Regions from separate parts of the Homo sapiens genome. Here region 1 is linked to region 2. The links come from fine-mapping of genetic effects on gene expression. Tissue or cell type: whole blood. Region 2 holds a variant in brackets; the other region holds the start of a gene. Each region is shown on its reference strand, or each on the opposite one. Region 1 holds the start of AGAP2 (ArfGAP with GTPase domain, ankyrin repeat and PH domain 2). Region 2 overlaps RREB1 (ras responsive element binding protein 1).

Region 1 (5,368 bases), not on the chromosome of region 2:
CGCCCCCTCTCACTTCACATTTAAATATTCTGCACGTTCCAGCCCCCGCGGACTCGCGTACCGCCCAATCCGCCTTCACCGCACGAAAAACATCACTAGCCTGCTCTCAGCCCAGGGGACGACTAGTCCCTGGCGAGAAGCTGCCTGCAAGGTCACTGTCATGCCACCTGCCCCAAGTGCTCAGGGGAAACTGAGGCTTCCTCATCCCCTTCACCTTCAACGTCGCTCTAAACACGGCAAAGCCCCGTTTCCATGCTCCCAGAGTTCAGCTGAGGCTGGAAGTGGGGTCCTGGGCTTCTCTGGGAGCAATTTTCTAGTCACTCTGATCAAGGACGTTACTTTCCCAGAAAGCTCTGAGGCTGAGTCCCTCTGAAATCAAGTCCTTTCTCCTGTCGCACAATGTAGCTACTCGCCCCGCTTCAGGACTCCTATTCTTTGCCCCAATCCTTGACAGAGGGGTGAGCTTGGTTCATCCGCCCACCCCAGAGAAAAGCTTCCCTAGTTTCCTGGACCTCGCTCCTCCACCCCAAGCTGAGCATTCCAGGTACCCTTCCCTCCCTGTTCTCAAGCCCTGACTCAACTCACTAGGGGAAGCGCGGAGCTCGGCGCCCAGCAGCTCCCTGGACCCGCTGCCAGAAGACAGGCTGGGGGGTCCGGGAAGGGGCCCGGAGCCAGGAGGCCCTCCTGTGCTCTTGGTGAAGATGCCGCTGATAAACTTGAGCATCTTGCGGTCACGAGTGGATGCTCGGCCCCCCTCCCGGCCCCGTTTCAGCCCCGGAGCTGGAGGCTCCAGAGTGATTGGAGGTGCAGGCCCGGGGGGCTGCGCGGAAGCAGCGGTGACAGCAGTGGCTGGACTCGGAGTTGGTGGGAGGGTTAGCGGAGGAGGAGAGCCGGCAGGCGGTCCCGGATGCAAGTCACTGTTGTCCAAGGTCTTACTCTTGCCTTTCCGAGGGGACAACTTCCCTCGGGCTCCAGCCCCAGCCCCGACCCCACCAGAGGTCGAAGCTGTAGAGCCCCCTCCCCCGGCGGCGGCGGCGGTGGCGGCGGCAGAGACCGAAGCTCCAGTCCCGGCGCTGCTCTTTGACCCCTTGACCCTGGGCTTGCCCTCGCTTTCGGGCCATGACAGGCGGCTACCCGCGCCCTTGCCCCCGCCGGCTTTGGCTCCACTCGTGGTCACGGTCTTGCAAGGCTTGGGAGCCGGCGGAGGAGGCGCCACCTTGAGCCTCCGGCTGCCGGTGCCAGGGTGCGGAGAGGATGAGCCAGGGATGCCGCCGCCCGCCCGGCCTTCGGGCTCCGGGCCGCCCCAGCTCGGGCTGCTGAGCAGGGGGCGCCGGGAGGAGGTGGGGGCGCCCCCAGGCTTGGGGTCGGGGCTCAGTCCCCCGGAGAGCGGGGGTCCCGGAGGGACGGCCCAGAGGGAGAGGCGGCGGCCGGGAGCGGGGGAGACTGGGCGGGCCGGACTGGCCGGAGCCGGGGACAGGGCTGGGGGCTCCGCGCCCCCGGTGCCCGCGCTGCTCGTGCTGATCCACAGCGCATCCTGCCGGTGGAAGAGACGTTCGTGCCGCTTCTTGCCCGGCTCCTCCGCGCCTCGGGGGCTGCCAGGATCCCCAGTCTCGGAGCCTCTGGCACCGGCGGCGCCGGCCGCGGCCGCAGACGGAGAAGGCGGCGGCGGAGGCACCGACTCGAGCTTAACCAGGGTCAGCGAGATGAGGTAGGTCGTTGTCCGGCGCTGAAGCGCGCCCGCGCCCCGGCTCATGGGGCCCGGAGACCCCCGAGCTGGGGAGGGGAGGGGACTCCCCCGGACTGCCTCAGGGGGGCCCGGCCATGGGGCCGCCCTGCTCGCTGCCCCCAGCCCCCGGACCCCGCTGAGCCCCCGGCCCGGCTCCGCTGTCGCCGCCGCCTCCGCCGCCTCCGCTTGCGCCCCCCTCCCATCACATGGGGCGCCCCCTCCCCATGCTCCCCGCCCTGCGCCCCCACCCTCTTGGAGCCCCGGGACCTTGGTGCTGCTCCAGGGAGGCGCGCCGGACCGTCCACCCCGGCCTGGGTGGGGGCGCTGAGATGGGTGGGGGAGGGCGGGGAGGACAGTAGTGGGGGCAAATGGGGGAGAGAGAGGAAAAGGGAGCAGAAAAGGGGACCGGAGGCTAGGGGAAACGAACCTGTGCGGGGGAGGCAGGGGCGGGGAATTGGGACTCAAGGGACAGGGGCCGCGGATGCGGTCGGAAAGAGGGTCTAGAGGAGGGTGGGAAGCTAGTGGGGCTGGCCGTGCGGGGGATTCGCAGGGGCGCGGGGAGGATGCTGGGGATGGAGATACAGGAGGCGGCGGGGGAGGAAAGAGGGAACGGGAGGTGGGTGGGAACCCACGGGTCTGGGGTCTGGGAGGGGAGGGGCGTGAGATCCGGGCGAAGAGTCCGGGGGCCTCGCCTGGGCTCGGCTTGGTCCGGATGCGCGCTGTGTCCGGGCGCTCCCCTCACATTGAGGAGGAGGCGGCCCCCAGGCCCCCCCACCCTATCTCCCCCCCACCTTTTCTCCACCAGCACCGATGTCTGCGAGGGCGGTGCAAAATCCAGGGCTGGATTTCTCTCCCAAATCCTGGGCTGGATTTCCTGGGACTTGGACTCACCTCCTCCAACAACCTAGCCCCCTCCTCTCGCGCACCAAGGTTAGGAAGCGCGATTGTGAGGTATGGCATTTAGGGATAAGGGTGAAAATCGATCTATTGGGTGGACAGGGGCCGCGGTAAACAGAGCAAACCCAGGGTCACTGCCAATTCTGGGGAAGATGAAGTGGGAAAGTGGGGGCCCTGAAATCCCTTCCCCCAGGATCTCTTGTCTCCCCCAGGTACCTGGACGGTTCCCGTTCTCATGACCCAGCTCCCTTTCCCACTCACACCACCACATTTAATACTTTGACGGGGCCAAGACTTGAGCTCGACTGTCCCAAAGTGAACTTGGAAAATGTTCCCCAGGGATGGGGACAAACATGGAACTTAGCAGGGTAGGAGAGAAGGGAGAGATCTGAGTGCTGGAGGAGCCCAGGCCACAGGGTAAGTCAAAGGCTCCAGCTCTAGGAGGAGGGAGAAGGATGTGTCTTAGACTGATACCCCCCCATGCCAAAATGCATCCAGTCTCCATAGCAACCGTAGCTCCAAGAGTGCCTCAGAAACAGCGGGCAGAAGCAGAGAGGAATCCGTGTGTATGGTGGGTAGGGGACCAACCGCGGGATGCTGAATTAGTGGAGGCACTGCCCTGACACCTGGCTACCCACAGGTGGAGGATTTCACTCCCCAAGTATAAGGACCCTTCAGTTGAGGCAGTGAGAGCCGGCCTCTTCAGGGTTCCCTTTCAGTCTCCTGAGGTTTGCTGAGTGGGATTCTTTCAGAAGATTAAAGAGGAGGCAGGCAGAGTGAATGGAAACCGTCTGCTCCGTGTCCCCCACCCCTCTAGGGGTCTTGGAGTTCAAGGCTCTCTATCCTCCAGCCAGGTGAGAATCCTGAAGTGGTTAGGCCAAAGTGGAAAAGAGGTTGAGACCCCTTGGGGGTGGGGTAAGATGGGCGAAGGAAGGTCTCTCTGCAGCCTTGGAGACCCCTTCCCGGGACTTGGGGAGTCACAGCAGTCCCCTGATTTGGCGTCCCACCCTCCTGACGCAGCTGAGACTATAATAAGTGCTGCCGTGGGCGGCTCTTGGAGGCAGGAGCCCGCAGCGTGCTTGGCCTGGTGGGGGGCTGAGGGTGGGGGGGCTGAGCCAGGATGCCAGGAGCCCTTTGTTCTCCCAGAGGCCTGTATCCAATCCCTCCAATGTTCTGTCCTGGGGCTCAGCAGTTTCTCCCTCCCTCCCTACAGAACCAAGATGACACCATCCCCAGGACAGGAGACCCTTCAGTAGTGTTTTTTGATGGAGAGGGTGAAGGAGAATTGTTGGCTCTGGCTTAAACTTCCCTCCTTTGATGGCCTCGGTTTTCCTTTATGTTCAATGGGAACAGAATACTAATTCTTAGAGAAGGAGTAAAACAAATCACTTATGAGGAGTGAAGCCTTCTCAGGGATTTCCACCTCCACCCCTCCTCACCCTCCTCCCTCTCCAGAGCTAAGCACAGCTTTTCTGCCTGGCCTAAACCGCTCTTCTCCTTTATTATTATTATCATTATTATTTTTGAGAGGGGTGGGGCTTAGAGTTTCTCCCTAGGAGGCCCCATGGCCCACTCCCCCTTGGTCTGCCTTTCCAAACACTAAGGCTGTCAGGGGAAGCTTCAGGTGTAGTTCCTGGCAAAGGGTATGGGACAGGAGGTGAGAGGGGCACTAGCCTCCGAAGAACAATGGGAAGGGGATCATCAGACTGTCCCACTAGGCATCCAAAGCAAGCTGTTCCTTCCCCAAGTTATACTCTGGTGTACTAGCAGAGAGGTCTGGCAGGAGGTGTCCTTGAGGGAAAGAATGATCTCTTGACAACCACCCAGGTAGGCAGGTAACAATGGAGAAGACTGAAATGGCTGGAAGAGATCAGGATATGATGGAAGAAGTGTTTCCACCAGACACCTTTCATGAGCAAAGAAGGCTGCTTTTGTTAGCTCTTTGCTGCATCAGAGGTGAATGGAATGACAGCGAGCTGGAACAACCTCCAGTTCCACCAGTTCCTCAGTGGTAGGGCCTTGTGGATGGAGAGAAGCTGTTCCTGCCAGGGCTCCACCACAGGACTGAAGCCTGGGGTGGGCAGGAGGATGTGGCGGATGGTGTTGCCATGGCAGCATTTCCTCCCTGTGTTGTCATCACTTGCTCTAATGGCACTAAGGAGGTAGAGCGGAAGGTGTGTGGGGGGAAGACAGGAACAGGAGCAAGGGGAGGAGAGGGGACCAAGAAGAGTTCTGGGGACCTATCTGCACTTTGGCTCTGCAGAGCATAGTGTGTGAGAGTTAGTATGCGCTTGGGAGCCTGAGATTCTCTGCATGGTGTACTTCAATGTGCATGCGTGTGTGTGTGTGTGTATGTGTGTGCATGTGTTTCTCTCTACAGCTGGAGAACAAGAGGTCACTGATCCTTTGTGGGTCCTGGGAATGAACTCATTATCCAGTCCCAGAACCTGCTGCCCCAGACTGCTTCCTGCTCTGGACTCCCCAGGCAGGGAACAAGTCTACCATGAGTCTGTCACAGCCTATCTTCCCCATGCTCACACATTTCTTCATTGCCAAGAAGGTCAGCTCAACAGGGACCTGTATTTTGATCTCCTGGGAGAAGGATCAGAGCAGGGAAAGAGAAAGAATGATACCTCCCATGTCTTTTTCCATCCTCCCTAAATGTATTCTTTCCCAGAGTCCCATCTTGGGGACTAGGAAGTAGCTGACTGGGAATTGATATATGATACAGCTAAACCTTCTATG
Region 2 (5,368 bases):
GTGAAATGTGAGCTTCTAATGACTCATGTGAGTTGTTATGTCACTTTGGGAGCCTTTGTAGTTTGATGCAATACTTTCACATCATGGATTGTTTTCTGAATTTAGCATTAATAGGGACCTTCTCATGGGGACGTCAGCCTGGCAGTCCTAACCAACTGTAAAGGTGACGCACTTACCAGTGTGAAAATTACAGAGTAAACCATGTGACAGGGGGGAGCGAGAAGCCGATTGTTTTCTTTGAAATCAAGAATCCTATCATAGTAGCTTCTTACTTGTTTTCCTCTTGGCCCAGTTCTTTTCTCAATCTGGCCAGACTCAGAGAAGCAGCAGTGTTACCTTTTGACAATAAAATGTTAAAAGTACTTTATTTTTACTTGAAATTATTAAATACTGTGTTCAATTTTAAATGAAAAACAATAAGTAATTTTTTTCATTTTATTTTATTTTTGAGACAGAGTCTGTCTGTCGCCCAGGCTAGAGTGCAGTGGCACAATCTCTGCTCACTGCCACCTCCGCCTCCCAGGCTCAAGCAATCCTCCCACCTCAGCCTCCCCAGTAGCTGGGATTAAGGTGTGCACCACCATGCCTAGCTAATTTTTGTATTTTTAGTAGAGATGGGGTTTCACCGTATTGGCCAGGCTGGTCTTGAACTCCTGGCCTCAAGTGATCTGCTCACCTTGGCCTCCCACAGTGTTGGGATTACAGGCGTGAGCCACCGCACATGACCACAAGAAGTAATTTGGAAGACGCACCATGAACACTGACATACTGTACAACTAGTCACACTTTTTTTTTTTAATGTGGATGTTTTAAAAATAAATTTTGCAGAAAACACCTGCAGAATGATATGAGGAGACCCTGAAAACAGTCAGTGGGGTTCTCCACTTTTGTTCAGGTTGCCTTGTGGAGCTACTCAGAAGCACACAGGCCGGATTTCTGGGTGTCTGATTCTGCCCTTTCCGGGTTTCTAATTCTGTTGTCTTTGATTGTTGCATCTTTATTCTTAAAAGCGCCTGAGGAGATTTGTAAGCATCATCTTAAAGGGTCTTTTAGCTCAGGAGGGAATCAATGTCCCCTGTCTCTGATTATTACTCCTGATGTGAAATTGTGGCCATGCTGTCATGGGGGCGGTGCCAGGTCCACACCTTCAGGCTCTGTATGAATGGCGCCCCCTGGAGTCGTGTGACACAGCCAGTGCCGGTTAAGGCTAGTCCCTCCTTCCCCTGGGAAAACACGTGGCCCCTCTGGCTGGTCCCCAGGTGCCAGGCCCTTGCTGTGCATTCACAGGGGAGTGCGTGGCCTTGGGCACCTGCACTAGTTCAGGCTTCTATCGACATTAATCTAACGCCAGAGGCCCCTGTGATCTGTGTTTCCAGGGAGCTGTGTTTAATTGTGGCAATCCTAGGGTTATGAGACAAAAGTACTGGGCCCCAGCTCTGAAGTCATGTTGGTTAACACACAAAACCTTTTACCCTGTAACATTAGCAACTGGGACCTTGGACTCCAGCAACTTGGGGGAAAGGGAGGAATTCAGTGATACACAAGTGATGCACCACCAACTTCCGCCTCCTGAAGGCCCCTGATCCCCTCCCTCCTCCTCTCTTTTCCTCTCCACCTCCTTTTTCCCTTGTGCTTTCTTTCTCCCTCACATGCATCCGCACAAACCCAGGACAAGTTGTAGAGGAGCTTCTATTGCATTTTGAAACATGATGTTTACAGCACAAAAGGAATCCAAGTAAAAGGAGAGGGTAGGCAGACCAAAGCAGGAGGGGACTGTGCCTCTCTCAGTGGCTCACCCATCTGTGCGTTTGGGATGGGTCTAGGGGCGAGGCAGGGCTGCCAAAATGTCCTCTTCACATGCACATCTGTTGAGTGGAGCACATGATCAAATGCAGACATAGTTACGTATTGGTCACTCATTTGCAACCAAGCTTGGAGCAGGGGGAACAAAGAACCTTTAATGAGAAGATCTCCTGACTGTTGCCACCTAGGACCACAGTGAACTTGAACAGAGGTCACTGCAGGATGTCTCGGCAAGTCAGACAGGAGTTGTCCTGGGAAGTCAGAACTCACTGCTCCCGTTCCCCTGTGGGAGGGACACAGCCACCAAGGCCAGGAAGGGGGACTGGCCACCCTGGCTGGGGGCTGTCCCTGACTTCTTCTCTTCATGGGCCCCCAAAGATACCCAGGGGTTCCCCATTGGATTTCCTAGTGTCCATATTACGGTGTCCTTGCCACACTAGAACTCGTTAGAGGGCGTCTTTCTCTTTGTGATAGAATATAGGTGTTTTCTTGCTGTGCTCTAAAATCTCTTCATTCGCTTTTTTTTGTTGTCGTTAATATTTTAATTGTAATACCGTTGTTTTACTTTAAATGTATATTTTTCAGTTTCATTTATTTTAGTATTTTGAGGACAAAAATTCATATTCCATTCAACTTAGGAAAAGGGAGAATGATCATTTTAGTCATTGATGGTTTTTTTTTTTCTAATGTGTTTTGTTAATTTTCTTGAAGGGATGGAGGAGGGGGGAACA[A/T]CTGCCAATGATCCCAGGAGAATAAACAAAAGCGACTTTTCTATTTCATTGCAGTAGAAAGCCAGATAAATATATATTTTTTTTCCTGCTTCAGGTCAGAAACCCTTCCCTTGTCAAAAATGCGATGCCTTCTTTTCTACCAAATCTAACTGTGAACGCCACCAGTTGCGCAAACACGGAGTTACCACCTGTTCCCTGAGAAGAAACGGGCTTATCCCCCAGTCAAAAGAGAGTGATGTTGGATCCCATGATAGCACAGGTAGTGCCGCCAGGTGAACAAGAACCCAGGAAGAGGGAGAGAGAGGAGTTCGGTTAAGAATTGTAGCAAACTCCAGTCCGAGCTGTGGAGGGGCTGCTTGTTCACTTCTCTGTAGGATTCAGAGCCCACAGCCTGTTAATAGAAAGGCAGGCCCTGCTGATGATTGGGAGGGAGTATAACTCCTGGGTCAGATCGCCTAGACAGACAGCAGAAAACAGTGACAGTGCCCCTCGGTGACTCTCGGGGCTGCTAGGGAAGATCTGTCACCCTCTTGGCAGAAGAGGCCTTTGTTCCCGATGTTGGGAGGTGGGATGTATGGGAAGGCTTACAACTTTAGCCCTGGGTATGAACTCATCTAAAGGGGATGTGAAACCTAAAGGTTTGGGGAGCCTTAGCCGCTGCAGCCTCCTCGGGAGCAGGCCTGGGCTCCCTGGGATATCAGGGTATTGTAGGAACGAGGGGTGCGGTGTTCTTCTTTTCAATAACTCTCTTCCCGGTGTAAGACTGTCCTTGTTTGAAAAAGCACTGTGCATGTCCTTTCTTTAATCACATCTCTGCTTGACCTGAATCCGGGTATTATTCTCCTGTGCTGATGTGTGCTTCCTCCCTCCAGCACCCACAGAGCAATTAACGGCTGCCCGATACGTCTTGTGCCACCTTGTTTCCCTTATAGTTTCTGAATTTACTCATGTCCTCTATCAGTACACTCCATCCGCTCGGACTGCTGGGGTTCTCCATCCTCACCCCCAAGAGCAAACAAAACGAAAGCCAGCCTGCTGCAGGCCACTTAGATATCCCGCCAGTTGGCACTGATTAGTAACAGGGACAGCATCATGGTGCTGGGTCCAGTTTTGCAAGTCTTGAAAACCTGACACTATCTTGTGGCTGCGAAGAGATCCCCCCAGCTGTGTTTTTTTAGGGTTGTATTTGCGTCCTGTGGCTTCTATTCCTCAGACTAGGGTGGAGATGGGGTGCCCTGTAGTTACGAGGCACCCCTGCCTCAGGAGTCAGTGTGGAAGAGGGTTGGGCATTAATCTTAGCCCCTTGTCCTTACCTTGGTTACAGGGGTACAGGGTGTATCTGAAGTGGAGAGGCCACCCTTTGCCCATCTCTACGCCTCCCACTGAGCCCTAGTGAAACCAACTGTGAGTGCTCTTGACTGCCCAACCGCCAGTCTAGATCAGATCCTCTGAGGGTATGAAAGGGTAAGCTGGTTTGTTCACTGCTTCCCCAGCTTCCACTTCCACATAACTCACCAGTATCTTTGAGTGAAGAAAGATGTGGGTGCCCACGGAATCTTAGCCTAACTTGGACCCCTGTGAGCCAAAGATGACCTGGAGTTCAGCCCACTGGAAGCGCACACCAGTGCTGGCAGGCACGCGTTTGCTGCAGACCATCCTGTTAATGTTTAACCATCAGCCGCCACATTACCTGTTAGTCTGGAACATTTTCTTTCATCCTGGTTTAGAAAGCTGCCCTGTGATCTTCCCATAGTGGTTCCACAGTAGCGAAAGCAGCCGGTAACTGAGGGAGCTGAGGGGGAGCCCTTGGGTTTCCATGTTTACAAATAAGTCTTAGTAACTCCGTGCTGGATGTGCATTTTGCATTCAGCTTCTTTATCATAAGGGAGGAACAAAGACTGGGGCTCCTGCTGACATCTGCAGACACAAAGCTGAGTCGGAATTTGTGGTCTTAGCTTCGGTTCAGCACCAAGTGTATTTATAAGTTTGCAGTCATAGGTTTTGTTGTCCAAATCCCAACAAAGCCCTTTCCCACCTCCACCCCACCCCGGAAGTTATATAGGGTTCCTTGAAGGGACAAAGCCTCTAGAAAAAGAAAAGTCACTGAAAGTTGTAATGTGAAACCAGCAAAGAGAAAATACATGTTTGGTTTAGTTGTGGTCACAGTCCATGGTGAGAAAAGGGACTGAGATTTAAGTGGGAGGGAAAAGTTTAGGGAGGCAGAGTTTAGTGATTTCAAGGAGGATTTTAAAATGCAGATGAGCATGATGGACATGGGGTGAAGCCTTCATTCTGGGTTCCCCCCCCCCAGTGAAGTTTAAAAAGTGAGGCTTTGAAGGAAGACCACTTAAAAAAAAGGGGGGGGGGGAAGGAAATGACCAAGGAGGTCCTTGAGGGGTTTTCTAGGCTTGTATGCCTAGGTGGCATTTTCTTAAAATTCCTACACATGTTTTATAATGTAGGTCTGACATTTTTCAGTCTCATAAAGTCCCCCAAAAGAATGCTAAAAATGCCACAGTGGGGGCAGTTCTCCCTTAAAGGTCCATTTTGAATATTCAAATTTCAACTGAAATTCTTCATTCACTGTCCTGGACAGAGAGGCAGCCTGGCCCCCTCTGCCCTTGAGGGATATGCCCTTGGTCCTTCCTCCGATGATGCCCCGTCTTTGTGTTTGTAGGCACCTACATAGGGCTGTTTTTAATTCGTATAAACATGAAAGTGTTTAAGCTCTCCCTTAATGGTGGCCGCCTTTACCAGCCCAGAAGTCCCACATGTCAGCATGGACTACACCTCAGGAAACCCTCTCCATCCTCAGATGCTTTGGGTGGAGTGCA

What was found.
Region 1: it holds the start of AGAP2, and the variant in region 2 is fine-mapped to the expression of AGAP2 in whole blood (TOPMed, PIP 0.99).

What each region holds. Positions count from the first base shown.
Region 1 is chr12:57,736,494-57,741,861 of GRCh38, forward strand. AGAP2 (ArfGAP with GTPase domain, ankyrin repeat and PH domain 2) reads right to left here and starts at 2,249. Exons shown (of 19, transcript NM_001122772.3): 1 at 586-2,249. The coding sequence starts at 1,753. RefSeq lists a silencer at 1,402-1,621 and an enhancer at 4,795-4,874.
Region 2 is chr6:7,237,810-7,243,177 of GRCh38, forward strand. It overlaps RREB1 (ras responsive element binding protein 1), which reads left to right. Exons shown (of 13, transcript NM_001003699.4): 11 at 2,629-2,793. Among named protein-coding and RNA genes, the nearest start is that of SSR1, 73 kb to the right of the region's middle. The variant A/T (reference allele first, on the strand shown) is at 2,535.